Linked DNA regions of Homo sapiens: region 2 is linked to region 1. Evidence: fine-mapped expression QTL. Tissue or cell type: whole blood. Region 1 holds a variant in brackets; the other region holds the start of a gene. All regions are shown on one strand. Distances are from middle to middle.

Evidence for each region. PIP is the estimated chance that this variant, and not a neighbour inherited with it, causes the effect.
Region 2: DNAAF9 starts here. The variant in region 1 is fine-mapped to the expression of DNAAF9 in whole blood (TOPMed, PIP above 0.99).

The regions. Positions count from the first base shown.
Region 1 is chr20:3,432,992-3,441,174 of GRCh38, forward strand. No RefSeq gene overlaps it. Among named protein-coding and RNA genes, the nearest start is that of DNAAF9, 29 kb to the left of the region's middle. The variant C/T (reference allele first, on the strand shown) is at 4,097.
Region 2 is chr20:3,403,853-3,412,035 of GRCh38, forward strand. It overlaps DNAAF9 (dynein axonemal assembly factor 9), which reads right to left and starts at 3,817. Exons shown (of 37, transcript NM_001009984.3): 1 at 3,623-3,817. The coding sequence starts at 3,705. RefSeq lists silencers at 3,481-3,560, 3,621-3,860, 3,901-4,150 and enhancers at 4,141-4,340, 4,717-5,218.

The sequences.
Region 1 (8,183 bases):
TTTGTTTGCCTGCTTGCTTGCTTTTTGAGACAAGGTCTTGTTCTGTCACCCAGGCTGGAATGCAGTGGCATGATCACGGCTCATTGCAACCTTGACCTCCTGGGCTCAAGTGATCCTCTCACAGAGTTGGAATTACAGGTGTGAGCCACTACACCTAGTCTTTAAATCTTTAAAGATTTGAAGTATGGAATTGGAAAAGAGGAGACAAAATTATCTAGATTTTCAGGGGATATCAACATATACTTGTAAACTCCAAGGAAACCTTGTGGTGGATAGAAAATACTCATTTCCACCCTCTCCAGAAACCTCACTAAAAAGGTGGTAAAGAGTTCTCTTAAAGATATAAAAGACAAAGATAAAGGATATGAACAAATTGTACATATAAAAAATGTTGAGCTGAGTGTAGTGGCTCACACCTGTAATCCCAGTACTTTGGGAGGCCAAGGCACATGGATTGCTTGAGCCCAGGAGTTCAAGACCAGCCTCATCAACATAACAAGACCCTGTCTCTACAAAAAATTTTTTAAAAAATAGCTGGGCATGGTGTCACATACCTATAATCCCAGCTGCTCAGGAGGTTGAGGCAAGAGAATTGCTTGAGCCTGGGAGGTCGAGGCTACAGTGGGTTGTGTTGGTGCCATTGCACCCCAGCCCTGGTGACAGAACAAGATCCTGTCTCAAAAAAAAAAATATTAAATGAAAAAAGCAAGATGGAGAACACTGTACCTAGCATGCTATCATTAGTATAAACAAAAGACAGGTAGAGTCTGGATAACTGAGGGGAGCAGGAGGTCCCCAGGAAGGCCTGTTTTCCAAGGAAAGAGGAGGAACAGAGAGGACAGTGAGGGTGAGGGCGGCTGCTGTCTCCTAAATCTGTCACCTCCCCTTCTCTGCTTTGGCAGCCATTATGTCCATGGGTCTCTGGCTTGTCTTGTGCAATACTTCCTTGTGTTAAACTCCAAGATATCAATGGGCTGATGAGAGTTCCAGCGTGAGCTACGTGACTGGATGGGTGCTTGGAATAAGAATCCCATGCCCCAGAGAGCAAGACCAGCAAGACAATACTGACTAAGCCACTTTCCCCTGTAAGCCACCCTGGACCCACTTCTCAGTCCTAAGGACTAATGACATAAACTGGATGATGGTCACATAAAAATCTTGGTGAGATGCTGGAAGTCTAAAGTGGTCCCTTTGGGATCATAATGTAAGAAAGTGGCTTCAAGGCATATTTCAGCATAGAGTAACCTTGGCATTGGAAGCACTTTGCAAAAACATAAGAGGCCATGCTAACTCTTTTCATACAACAGAGGCCTGGCAGGTGACATTTCCAGAGGGAGAATGGAAGATTCTGAGAGCACTGCACAAGAGTCTCCCTTAGACACTTCTAGAACATATAGGAGGCTGTGGTAGAAGGGAACTGAAAGTTCAAAGTGTTGATCATGTGCACTGACTAAGCCTTTGTATTTAAAATCAAGATGACATCATAACGGCCTGATTTTCTTTCTTTCTTTCTTTCTTTTTTTTTTTGAGACGGAGTCTCGCTCTGTGGCCCAGACTGGAGTGTAGTGGCGCAACCTCGGCTCACTGCAACCTCTGCCTCATGGGTTCAAGCGGTTCTCCTGCCTCCCCAGGTAGCTGGGATTACAGGCATAAGGCACCGCACCTGGCCAACCTGATTTTCTTAAAAATAAATCTGGGTTTAGATTATTGGTAGAAACATTAAGTGATGTTGTGTCTTCTCAGTGCAACACACCAGTCAATTTTCACGTTGATGGTGATGCTAAGTGTAATCTGATGGTCAACGTGGTGACCTTCAGCTCTCTCTGTGGTAAAGATACGTTTTCCCTTTTGCGATTACTAAACAGCCTGTAGGGTGATACATTCAAACCTTATGAATATCATTTTTCCCAACCCCCTTTATCCTAATAGTTTTACATTCCATTGATGATGCCTGCCTGAATCAATTATTAATAGACTGGTCATAAAATGATGATTTTTCCATTTCTATCATTCCATCTACATTCACAATTTGGCATTCTTTTATGAAGAAGAGCTTTCTTTTCTTTTTTTTTTTTGAGATGGAGTCTCACTTTCTTGCCCAGTCTGGAGTGCAGTGATGCCATCTTGGTTCACTGCAACCTCTGACTTCCAAGTTCAAGCAATTCTCCTGCCTCAGCCTCCCAAGTGGCTGTGATTACAGATGGGCATCAGGACGCCTGGCTAATTTTTGTATTTTTAGTAGAGATGGGTTTTTGCCATGTTGGCCAGGCTGGTCTTGAACTCCTGACCTCAAGTGATCCACCCACCTCAGCCTCCCAAAGTGCTGGGATTACGGGTGTGAGCCACCTCACCTGGCCCTCTTTTCTACCCCCTTTAAAATTTTTGGTGTTGGCCAGGTGCAGTGGCTCACGCCTGTAATCCCAACATTTTGGGAGGCTGAGGTGGGAGGATTGCTTGAGCCCATAAGTTCGAGACCAGCCTGGGCAACATAGCAGGATCTTGTCTCTATTAAGAAAAATAATAATAAAATAAAATACCATTGTTGGTTGTTTTATTTATTTATTGTGGTGGTTGTTGTTTTGAGACAGAGTCTCTCTCTGTTACCCAGGTTGAAGTACAGTGACATGATCATAGCTCACTGTAACCTCGAACTCTTGGGCTCAACTGATACTCCTGCTTTGGCCTCCCAAAGTGCTGCGATTACAGGTGTGAGCACAGGCCAAAATTTTTGGTGTTAATATCAATAGAGACACATGGATTCCTTTTGATTCAATATATAATAATCCATTCCTGCATTATTCATATGAGGCTGAGATTGTCCCAGATTTTGACATGAGGGCCTCCATAAAAATGTAGATTGCAAGCCACCTTCTCCCTCTCCTCCAGTGGGGCCTGGGATTCTGCATATATAACTACCACTAAACTAAAATCTGAAACACCCACTAAATCTGAAAAGTTGAGGAAAAGCCCTTGCCAAGGACCAGCTGAGGAGTTTATGTTAAGAGTGGTTTCACACCCACCAGGCAATACAGCTAGAACTTGACAAGGGCATCCTCTGAGGCAAAGAAGGCCAGAATGCCAGCAAACGAAGATGCATCTTCTGGAGGTGGAAGGGGGTGAGGAAGAAATGGAGAGGTCAGGGCTGGAAAGGAGATGCTTATGGTTTTTTTCCTGCCTTGGGAAGACTATAGCAGACAAGATACCTATTAATTCTTGCAACATTACAGCAATGGTTTTTCTGAGTAATAGGAACAGTTTGCTTCTATCCCCAAAGATGGAGAGCTCTTTGCTATTTGGAACCAAGTGTTGATATAGTCAGGAAAAGACCTGGATCAAGGGAGTGTATAAAGCACACAAGTGCACACTGTCACTCTTGCTGAACACTCCTGGTGAAATGTAGAAAAGACATGAAAGAGGGAAAGTAATACATCTACAGCAGCATCAGGAAACTGAAAAGCCAAAAGGCCAGGCATTTGATGAAAGTCCTGGACAATAGAGAGCAGGAGGAAATGTGGGATCAAAAAAGCAGAACTGGGCCAGGCTTGTTGGCTCACACCTGTAATCCTAACAATTTGGGAGGCTGAGGCAGAAGGATTGATTGAGGCCAGAAGTTTAAGACCAGCCTGGGCAACATAGTGAGACCCTGTCTCTACCAAAAAATAATATAAAATAAAAATTTTTTAAAAGTGGGGAATTGAGTCCATGCATTTGGGCCTACGTCCTCTCCAAACCTCACTAAAATAACAGTTAAAAAATAAAAAGGACAAAACTCACAAGGACAAAAAGAACAGACATTGAAACAAGATTGAGCTAGTGATGTCGAGAATAAATATTTCAGATGTTCTAGGCCAGGCATGGTGGCTCAGGCCTGTAATCTCAGTATTTTGGGAGGCTGAGGCAGGTGGATTGCTTGAGCTTGGGAGTTTGAGACCAGCCTGGACAACATGGTGAAACCCCATCTCTACCAAAAAAAAAAAAAAAATTACAAAAATGAGCCAGGCGTGGTGGCACACACCTGTGGTCCCAGCTACTCAGGAGGCTGAGATGGGATGATAGCTTGTGCCTGAGAGGTCAAGGCTGCAGTGAGCCATGAACA[C/T]GCTGCTGCACTCCAGCCTGGGCAACAGAGTGAGACCCTGTCTCAAAAAACCAAACAAAACACATATTTCAGACATTCTCACCTGACACAGGTATTAAAGAGGAAATGATTCCACACTTGGGAAAATGGCAAAATTATGATTGCCTAATTCCTGAGATCTTAGGGGAACACTTTTTCAAACCCTGTTTCAATAAAAGCAGAACCTGCATCCTGGGAATTTACCCTCATGGGACACACCAGGGGAATGAAATTCCATTGCCACAATGTATGTAATCAATCCATAATGATTGAAGAAACAGACAGTTTTATGGTTCTATAAAGTTACAGTTTAACTTTAGAGACTAATAGGTTCTATGTTTTTATAGCCTGGTATAGTTTAACTTTAGAGACTAATAGGTTCTATGTTTTTATAGCCTGGTTGTGTGGTTAAATACAATGATTTTATTGCCCTGTGGAAAATTAATCAGTCTTGAATTTTACCCAGCAAATTGTCCTTGGAATTCCTTTAACTCTAGCTCTGTTCGTTTGTGCGAGCACACGAGGGTACACACACACACACACACACACACACACACACACACACACACACACAGAGTTTTTCTTTTTTTTTTTTTGAGACGGAGTCTCGCTCTGTCGCCCAGGCTGGAGTGCACTGGCGCAATCTCGGCTCACTGCAAGCTCCGCCTCCCGGGTTCACGCCATTCTCCTGCCTCAGCCTCCCGAGTAGCTGGGACTACAGGCGCCCGCCACCACGTCCGGCTAATTTTTTGTATTTTTAGTAAAGATGGGGTTTCACCGTGTTAGCCAGGATGGTTTCGATCTGACCTCGTGATCTGCCCGCCTCGGCCTCCCAAAGTGCTGAGATTACAGGCTTGAGCCACCATGCCCGGCCTCTTTGACATTTCAGTGTGTGAGTCCATCAGAGCATAACTGTTATTATCTTTCTTCTCTTTTTTTATCTTTGAGATGGAGTCCTGCTCTGTCGCCCAGGCTGGAGTGCAGTGGTGCAATCTCGGCTCACTGCAACCTCTGCCTCCCAGATTCAAACGATTCTCCCGCCTCAGCCTTCCGAGTACCTGGGATTACAGGTGCATGCCACCATGCCAAGCTGATTTTTGTATTTTTAGTAGAGACAAGGTTTCACCATGTTGGCCAGGTTGGTCTCAAACTCCTGACCTCAAGTGATCTGCCCTCCTCAGCCTCCCAAAGTGCTGGGATTACAGGTGTGAGCCACCATACCCTGCCATAACTGTTATTATCTTGAAAGCATGTGTTTTTATGGGTACTGGGACATCTGAACTCTCTGACGGAGGAGTGCGTCCTCGTAGGTGTCTTTATGGTCTTTCCTCAACTATAAACATCTGTAATCATGGGTAGTGACTGGCAAGGAATGTGCCCTGTTAGTCTCCAGATGGAGCTGAACTTTTAATTTGGCTCTTCTAGGCTCCTGCTTCCCTAACACAAAGTCACAAGTTTCTGCATTGAAAGGTCTTACCAGGAACCTAGAACAATGAATTAATTAAAAAATATCCACACAGGCTGGGCACAGTGGCTCACGCCTGTAATCTCAGCACTTTGGGAGGCTTAGGTGGGAGGATTCCTTGAGGCCAGGAGTTTGAGACCAGGCTAGGCAACATAGAGAGACCCCATCTCTACAAAAAATTTAAAACATTAGCTAGGCATTGTGGCATGTACCTGTAGTCCTAGCTACTTGGGAGGTTTAGGCAGGAGGACTGATTTAGCCCAGGAGTTTGAGGCTGCAGTGAGCTATGATTGTGCCATTGCATTCCAGCCTGGCGACAGAGTGTGACTCTGTCTCAAAATACATACACACACACACACACACACACACACATACGCACACACAGAAATTAGTATGAATTCATATTTATGTGTGTGTGTGTGCATATACACACACCCACAGATGAGTAAATACAGAAATAACTTTAGAAATAAATGTGTGTCTAAATGGATTAGTATACACATACATATTATTCTAACCCTCTGCTAAGAGATCCAAGAGCAGTGACACCCAATAAAACAAGCACATCCAGTGCCCAGATCTTGGTTTCTAAACCAAGAATGGTTTCTAAATACCATTCTCTGATTTTAAAAAACCAGGGCTTCTTGAAAAAATGACTGAAGCTATTTCAAGGCAAGGAAAATGCAAGATGAGCCCAGAGCACCTGATAGACCAGAAGGCAAGGAAGTACTCAAGAAAAAAAAAAAGTCAGAGGGATACCACAGCCAACTCTGAGGAGTTTCCAATGGCCAAAGCCAGACCAATTTGGGAACCAAAATAAATAATGTGGTATTGGATTGTAACCCAAAGTGTAAATAAGTATAGATGAGGCCATATTTACAGAGAGAAAATGATTGAAAAATAAATGACAGAAAAGGGACAAATTTCCTTATAGAAGAATTTCAAATAACATAAGTAGCTATGCTCTCCACCTTGCAAAAAGAAGTTTACTTCTTCTCCCCAACCCCTTTGAGGGTAGGCTGGACTTTGTGGCTCACTTCCAAATAACAGAATATGGAAGTGGGAAAAATGGTAACTGTGTGATGGAGAAACCTGGAAATACCACCTTAACCAAGTGATCATGGTTAACATTATCAGTAATAAGAGTATATTACTTGTGCTATTCTTCTCGAAATCCCATAAGCCCAGTCTAGTCCTGAGAAACATACCAGACAAATGCAAACTGAGAAACATTCTACAAAATGCTGGATAGTACTCCTCAAAACCGTCAGGGCTATGAAAACAAAACAAGACTGGGAAACTATCACAGACCAGAGGAGACTAAAGGGACAGGATGAATAAATGCAATATGGTGTCCTGGATTGGATCTTGGAACAGAAAAGGGGCATGAGTAGAAAAACTGATGAAATTTGAATGAGGTCTGGAGTTTAGTGAATAGTAACATACCAATATTGGTTTTTTAATTTTCACAAATATACCATGGTAATCTCATATGTTAACATTAGGGAAAACTAGGTGAGGGGTATATAGGAATTCTCTATATTATCTTTGCAACTTCTCTGTAATTTTTTTTTTTTTTTTTTTTACCAAATACGTATTTTTTTATTATGTCACAGCAAGAAAGAGCATAATCTGATTTATGTTATAAATTCCAACTAAAGAAGTGATTCATTCAATCTTTATACATATGACAAATATTTAATGAGTATCCACTCTGTACCAGATAGTGTTCTGGGCACTGTGGACACAGAGATGAGTAAGACAGTTAAAGCCCTTGCCCTCACGGAGCTTTCATTCTAGGGGATTCTGGGAAGGCAAAAAGAAAGCAAACAGTCCAGTTAAGATACCACTGCAGAGTCCACATGATGGATCATAATGGTTTCTTTTTTTTTTTTTTTTTAATTGATCATTCTTGGGTGTTTCTCACAGAGGGGGATTTGGCAGGGTCACAGGACAATAGCGGAGGGAAGGTCAGCAGATAAACAAGTGAACAAAGGTCTCTGGTTTTCCTAGGCAGAGTGTGTGTGTCCCTGGGTACTTGAGATTAGGGAATGGTGATGACTCTTAACCAGCATGCTGCCTTCAAGCATCTGTTTAACAAAGCACATCTTGCACCGCCCTTAATCCATTTAACCCTGAGTGGACACAGCACATGTTTCAGAGAGCACGGGGTTGGGGGTAAGGTCATAGATCAACAGGATCCCAAGGCAGAAGAATTTTTCCTAGTACAGAACAAAATGAAAAGTCTCCCATGTCTACTTCTTTCTACACAGACACGGCAACCATCCGATTTCTCAATCTTTTCCCCACCTTTCCCCCTTTTCTATTCCACAAAACCGCCATTGTCATCATGGCCCGTTCTCAATGAGCTGTTGGGTACACCTCCCAGACGGGGTGGTGGCCGGGCAGAGGGGGTCCTCACTTCCCAGTAGGGGCGGCTGGGCAGAGGCGCCCCTCACCTCCCGGACGGGGCGGCTGGCCGGGCGGGGGGCTGACCCCCCCACCTCCCTCCCGGACTGAGCAGCTGGCCGCGCGGGGGGCTGACCCCCCACCTCCCTCCCGGACGGGGCGGCTGGCCGGGCGGGGGGCTGACCCCCCCACCTC
Region 2 (8,183 bases), 29 kb before region 1:
TATGTTGCCCAGACTGGACTTGAATTCCTGGACTCAAGGGATCCTCCCACCTCAGCCTTCCGAGTAGCTGACCTACAGGTGACTGGCTTCATTTTCTCTTGAACCCACTGCACCAAAACTGTTCTTGTCAAGGTCACTAGTGACCCTCCACATTATCGAATCTAATTGTCTATTATTAGTCCTTTTGTTTTCTTGAGATGGAGTTTCACTCTTGTTGCCCACACTGGAGTGCAATGGCAAGATCTTGGCTCACTGCAACCTCCACCTCCCAGGTTCAGGTGATTCTCCTGCCTCAGGCTCCCGAGTAGCTGGGACTACAGGTGCCTGCCACCATGCCCAGCTAATTTTTTTGTGTGTATTTTTAGTAGAGGTGGGGTTTCACCATGTTGGTCAGGCTGGTCTCAAACTCCTGACCTCAGGTGATCCACCCACCTTGGCCTCTCAAAGTGCTGGGATTACAGGCGTGAGCCACCGTGCCCAGCCTGATTACTAGTTCTCATCACACTGTCAACAATCTCATTCGGCTTTCAATGTCTGTTCTCAATTATTCTCCCACCTCAGAGGTAGGAAACCATTTTCTCTCAGAACTTGGAAGACACTGCTACACTGCCTTTTCTTCTTCTAGTGTTCTTAATACTAATAAATGGCAACTCCATTCTTTCAATAGCTGAGGCAAAAACCGACTAGGCCTTCTTGTATTATTGTTCTTTCGGCCGTATTTCTTCCTCAGTACTTATGACTCACTATTCTATATTATGATTTCTACTGTTACTGTCTCTTCCCCTTTACAAAAGAGTTATTTGAGGGCAGGGGACTGCTGTATTTATCTGACTCTACAGCACCTAACAGAGTACTTGTTGCATAATTTATATAAATAAACAGTGAAATTTAAACTATTAAAGAAGTTTCAAGCAGGAACAGATCGCTCTACAGAAAAACATTTTGAAGTAGAAAGTATCTTTCAGCTAGATTTCCACTGGTTCCTTAGCATTGATCCAGATAGGTTAGTTTATACCTTGGTAATAAGTCCAAAATCCCGGTGGTGTTTCACTTCTTGCTCAACCTACCTGTCAAGCATAGGTCACCTGGAAGCTAGCTCTGGGGCCTTGACTGATGGGTGGCTGCCATTTGCAGCCCCAACAGCTACCATGACAGAAGGAAAGAGAATGGAAAACTACACAACAGAAATTTGTACCATGAAAGGCTACACAGTATTCCCACGCATTTCACTGACCAAAAGCAACTCTTAAGGCCATACCTAACTTCAAAGAAGCAAGCAAGTAAAATTCTACTACATGCTCAAGAGACAGAAACCAAAAATACCTGGTAAGACTGATGACTATCACATGCTTAAAGAGAAGCCTCTCATTCTGAGTAACAATATTTTAATTCTTGATCTCCATTCTCCATCTGTGAAAATGAACTACCGTGCTAGAACCATACACTTGCAGAGTACTATCTATGGGTCTTAGGAATGTCACTTCACCAGTTAGGTTTGCCCCTTCCATCACTCAGCAGTCAGCAGCAAAGCCATATATGGGTGACAGGAAAGTGCTAGTAACATTCAATGTCAAGAGTAAGGGAAAGGCTTGAATGGGCAAGAAAAGCACGTTCAATCATGTAGAAGTGGGGAAAGGAGGGAAGCCTTCAGCAAATTTCTTTCACCAAAGGTATTGGGGGCAGCTAGGCCTTGGGGTTCCTTGCACTATTCCTTGTCTGAAATCAAATTTTATTCAAACCACTTGATAGAAGATTTGGAGTTCGGGTATGATCAGTAAAGTGAGCCAGCATACTTCTTTGAACATAGAATCACTACCTTTAAAAGAATAAATAAAAAGCACATGGCCATGCTACTAAAAACAAGAAAGGCAGCATTTAAGAGACAGATTCTAAGGTAGAGATGATTTTTTTCCCCCTAAAGATCTCAACAGACTCAAATCCAAATTCCTAAGCTCAAGATGATCTGGGATAAACCTCAAGTCCACACAGAGCCTAGATTTAACGGATGGCTGTTCTAAAGTATCCTATGCAATGTCTATACAAGTTCAAATACTTTCTGCTTCAGACAGTGAAACTGGCAGAAATGTTGCAAAGGATTGGAGATGCGTTACTATAAGCAGTTAAACTTGGAACTGTAAAGCCCACAAGGAATTACACTGAAGGGCAGAGCAGGAGTTCAAAAATGTCACCTGACAGATTCGAAGCAATTTAGGACTCCTAAATGCAATGTTTCATTGGTATCTACCCCCCACCTTCTCTATCCTTTATTTGTTCAACAAACATATACTGGATTCTGGGTTGTGGAAAGGAATGCAGGGAAGTAAAAAAGAAACAGGTTTCTAAGAATCAGTTTCTTGTTCTCCAATAATTTGGTCTAGTTAAAGCAAACAAACAACCCCAAAAATCAGATCAGCAAGCAAAGTTAAAACATATGCCTTAAGTACCATAACAAGAATATAAGAAAACTGTTTTAACATGTAGATTGGCAACCTCCTTTCAAGGGAACAATATATTTGCTTTGCTATGTGGCTAGAATAAGAAAAAGCAAACAACAACAAAACCCTCTCCTGTTTTAATGACAGTTTAGCAGTACCAAAGCTCATCGCTCGCATTCCCCCTCTCCCTCTCCTTCTCAAAGGTCTCTGCTGCAACCCCTCCATCATTCCAACCTCCACACTGCGCCGGCGCCCCACACCAGCTCCATCACAAACAATGCCCAGACCAACAAGATCAGCACCAAACGCATAGGGCACAGAAATCGGAAACGGATCTTCCTATATCTAAAGGGGGCGGGGAACGCTCCCCACGATCACCCCCTCCCCATACTGAGGTAGCTTGGGACTGTGTCTCTACGGTAAGGGGCCTGGCGTCCGCCGCTTTCGGAGGTTCTAGGCCTCTTTCCCCTATTTATCCAGTTTTTCCTCCTGCGTCCCTAATACCTCTACTTCCTCCCAACCCGAGCTCCCTATTGTGGAGTGAGGGGGCGTCGCGATGCAGGCTGAGGCAGGGGGAGCTGGGGAAACGCGCGACAGGGGAGATGCTGTCATTATGTACGTAGGGGGCGGGGGACACTCTTTAAGGAAGCCGTTGTCAAGGGCAAAGGCTCTAGAGACCCACGGGAGGGGGCTTTCTAGGTAATCCATTTGGGGGTTCTACACGAGGGAGCTATTGTGTGTGTGGAGGTGTGAGGTCTGTAGAGTAGCAGTTTCTGAGGGAAACATTCCCTGGGGAAGGCGAGTGAGTTATTCATAGGGAAGCCTCTGTGGGGTTCTGTGTAGAAGAATCCTTCCTGGGAGAAACGTTCTATGGGGGTGAGGACGTCATAACAGTGTCTTCACAGGGAATCGCTGTCCCTAGGGAAGCCATTGTGGGGAAACCGTTGCAGGGTTGTCTGTGGGGGAGCCATTGTGGGGAAACCGTTGCGGGGTTGTCCAAAGGGGAGCCATTGTGGGGCCTCTACAGAGGGCGCCGTTCCTGGGAAAAATTCCTCCCTGAGCCGTTCAGCAAAGAACCGTCCCGAGGAAGCCATGTCGGACCACGCCCTGCGGCGGGAGGCGTCGCCGGACCCCGACAGCCCGCATCCCCCGCCCGGCCGCCCCTCGGCTGCCTCTGCCCCGCGTACCTGACGGAGGGTGACCCGCGGCTGGAGCCGCCAGGGGACCGAGCGCGGGGCAGCCCCTGCCGGCGCGGGGGGTACACGTCCATGGCGGCGGACGACTGGCGGCGGAGGAGGACGGTGCAGCTGCGAGGGTCTCAGTTGCCCGCAGGGCGGCTCCACGCTAGCTGCGGCCGGGCGGGGCGGCAGGGCGTGCCGGGTGGGAGGGGGCGCGGCGCGCGGGCCCGGCGGGGGCGGGGGCGGGGGCGTGGAGGGGGCGCGCGCACCGAGAGCGGATGGGGGCGTTGGGAGCGGCTGGAGTTGGGGGTCGGCGCACGGCCACAGGGACCCCACTTCTTAAGCTGCGAGGCCGCCGGACCGGATGTTGGGAGCGCGTGTCCGCAGGGTGAGGGTTGCCACAGCGCCGCCCGGCCTCGTCCTCAAGCCCGGCATCATAGAGCGGGGCTCTGCGCGGCGCCCCCCGGCCACGCACACGGACGCGCCCGGGGGCGGAGCCTCTCCCAGCCCGGCCCCGCCCCTCCGCCTCTGCCCGCCCCGCCCCGCCCGACCAGCCCCGGCCTCCAGCGAAGTCTTCCGCTCCGGCGTCAGGATCCAGCGCACCTCCCCAGTACCCAGCGCACCTCCCCAGTACCCGGCTCGCTTCCCTGTTCTCCGGAACGGTGTCTTCCCGCTTCCTGGTCATCAATTCCGCACCCACCCTTCAAACATCCAATAGATTCCTAGCCGGCCTCGGGTTAGCGCAGCAGTGCGCACCCAGCCCTGCGCAGGGCATGAGCGTTAGAGGCGCACAGGATCCCAGAAGACCCCTAACCTTTACTGTTAAGATCCTAGCTCTACCGGTTTCTGCAGGGACATGTACAAGAAACTTGGGAAATACTGCACTGATAGTTGCCAGGAGTCCTGTATATACAGGACGTATTTAATGATTATTGGCCTGCGTCCTTCGTTGACCTCGTCGGAATGCCTTAAATGTCCTGTATTCATCTTTTTACACTAAATTGCAATAATTAGAGCTATTTTTCTCCCACAGTAATTGGTGCTAGATCACTTAAATTACAACACTGGCTGAAAATCCTTCCTACACTAATGAAGATTTGGACAATCCCTATGGTGTCTCCTTCAGGTTTGGCTGAGGGAAGACCAGAAGGGAGTAGGAATTTAAAGTGCTCGTCTTTCATATTCAAGAAAGGAAAATACTTTTTTAGCTCAAGTCCGGAGTCGTGAACAAATAACCACCATTATTTAGAGATAACTTCTCGTCGGTGCAGCAGCTCTGAAAATCAGCCAATCAGCGATAGCCTCACTCCGGTAACTATGCTTCTTAGTAAATCAATGACAACCCCACGCTTCTGAAAGTCAGCCAATCAGTGACCGCTCTAAGCCTCCGACAATAGCCAATCAACAAGTGCCTGACACCAGCGACCAGGCTTCCGAAAGTCAGTGGGTACTCAGCTGCCGCACTCCACTTCTGATTCGGAAAGACAGCCAATCCCTGAAGGCGAATATTTCCAAAACCATTTTTTTTTCTTTCCCAGACTGAGTCTCATTCTGTCGCCCAGGCTGGAGTGCAGTGGCGCGATCTCGGCTCACTGCAACCTCTGCCTCCCGGTTCAAGCGATTCTCCTACCTCAGCCTACCGAGTAGCTGGGATTACAGGCTCCCGCCACCACGCCTGGCTCATTTTTGTATTTTTAGTAGAGACGGGTTTTGCCATGTTGGCCAGACTGGTCTCAAACTCCTGACCTCAGTTGATCCGCCTGCCTTGGCCTCCCAAAGTGCTGGGATTACAGGCCTGAGCCATCGCGCCCGGCCTTTTTTTTCTTTTTCTCCTTTTTTTTTGGAGACAGAGTCGCACTCTGTTGCTCAGGCTGGAGTGCAGTGGCGTGATCTCAGATCACTGCAACCTCTGCCTCCTGGTTCAAGCGATTCTTGTGCCTCAGCTTCCCAAGTAGCTGGGATTACAGGCCTGTGCCACCAAGCCTGGCTAATTTTTTGTATTTTTAGTAGAGACAGAGTTTCGCCATGTTGGCCAGGCTGGTCTTGAACTCCTGGCCTCAAGTGAATCGCCAGCCTTGGCCTCCCAAAGTGCTGGTATTACAGGCGTGAGCCGCGCCCGGCCTTCAAAACCTTTTATAAGATCAGCTCTGGCTTTGTTCAGAGAGGCTGTACCTTACAAGTACCGCTCTCCCTTGCAAGCAGAGAAGAAATTCACTTTTTTTTTGCATCAGATATTGAGTTCAATTTATTGTTTTGTCCGAGTTCAAAGTTCACAGCTCAAGATTCAATTCCCAGTTACTATTTGGTATGAGTTTGGACTTATGACAGACGCTATGACACCGTCATGAGATTTATCAAATACAACTCTTTCAATTCTTTCTATGCTTGCAGTGATCAATTTTTTAGCTCAAGTCCAGAGTCATGAACAAGTAACCACCATTATTTAGAGATAACTTCCCATCGGTGCAAAAGCTCTGAAAATCAGCTCTAAAAACAATTCAACGGGGCTACACGTGGTGGTGCACGCCTGCAGTCCCAGCAATTTGGGAGACTAAGACAAGTGGATTTCTTGAGCCCAAGAGTTTGAGACCAGCCTGGGCAACGTGGCAAAACCTCATCTCTCTGTCTCTCTCTCTCTATATATATATAGTTTATTTATAAAAATATATATTTATATTATAATTTATGTATACAAATATATTTCATATATGCACACACACACAAATTGGCCAGGCATAGTGGCATGTGTCTGTAGTCGCAGCTATTCAGGAGACTGAGATGGGAGGATCGCTTGAGCCTGGGAGGTCTAGGATGCAGTGAGTTAAGATCAGGCCACTGCACTCCAGCATGGGGGACTGAGTGAGACCCTGTCTCAAAAAAAAAAAAAAAAATCAATGAGTATAGGCACAGATTTGTGCAACCACCACCACAATCAATTTTAGAACATTTTTATCACTCCAACAGGAAAATCCTGTACCTATTAGCAGTCATTCCTCCATTTCTTCCCAACCACCCCAGCCCTAGGCAACCACTAACCTTTTAATTTGCCTATTCTGGACATTTCATGTTATCAGCATCATTCAATATATGGTTTTTCATGACTGGCTTCTTCCATTTAGCATAATGTTTATAAGGTTCATCCATGTTGCAGCATGTATCAGAATTTTGTTCCTTTTCATGGTTGAATATTATTACATTGAATGGATATACCACATCTTGCTTATCCATTTATCTGTTAATGAACAGTCAGATTGTTTCCACTGTTTTGCTATGTTTTGTAGCTAATGCTATTATTAACATTTGTGTACAAGTTTTTTTGTGGACACACAGTTTGTTTCCTTGGCGATCTAGGAGTGGGTTTCTGGATCACATGGTAACTCTACGTTTAACCTTTTGAGGAACTGCCAAACGGTTTTCCAAAGTGGCTGCACCATTTATATTCTCACCAGCATCATATGTGGGTTCTAATTTTTCCATATCTTCCCTAATACTCATTATCTTTTTCACTATAGCCATTTTAGAGGGTATGAAGTGGTATCTCATTGTGGTTTTGGCTTATATTTCCTGATAGCTAATGATGTCAAGCATCTCTTCATGTGCTTATTAGCCATTTGGACCTCCTCCTTTTTTTTTTTTTTTTTTTTTTTTTGAGACGGAGTTTCACTCTTGTTGCCCAGGCTGGAGTGCAATGGCATGATCTCAGCTCAACGCAACCTCTGCCTCCCGGGTTCAAGCGATTCTCCTGCCTCAGCCTCCCGAGTAGCTGGGATTACAGGCATGCGCCACCGCGCCCAGCTAATTTTGTATTTTTAGTAGAGACGGGGTTTCTCCATGTTGGTCAGGCTGATCTCAAACTCCCGACCTCAGGTGATCTGCCCACCTCAGCCTCACAAAGTGCTGGGATTACAGGCATGAGCCGCCGTGCCTGGCCTATACCTCTTCTTTGGAGGAATGTCTGCTCGAATTTTTTGACCATTTTTACTTGGTTACTTGTCCTTTTATTATGTTGTGGTAGCTCTTTATATAGTCTAGATATAAGTACCTTATCAGAAATACAATTTGCAAAAATTTTATCCCATTCTGTGGGTTGTCTTTTCACATTCTTGATATTGTTGTTTGAAACACAAAACTTTAAAATTTTAATGATATCCAGTTTATCAATTTTTTTCTTTTGTTGCTTGTGCTCTATGTGTCATAACTAGGAAACTATTGCCTAATCCAAAGTCATGAAGACGTACCTCTTACATTTTCTTCTAAGAGTTTAATAATTTTGGCTCTTACATTTTAGATCTTTGATTAATTCCAAATTAATTTTTCTATATGATGTGAGGCAGGGATCCAACTTGATTCTTTTCCATGTGGCTATTCACTTGTCTCAGCACCATTTGTTGAACAGACTATTTTTTTCCCCATTGAATTGTCTTGGTACCCTTGTTGAAAATCGATTGTGTTATCTATTTCTTTATTTGTGTATATGTGAATCCACAAATGCCAAATTGCAAGAGTGAATTTTATGACAAATTTTCTGAAGAGTGTACATTTATTAAAGGAGAGAAAATCCATTTGCAGC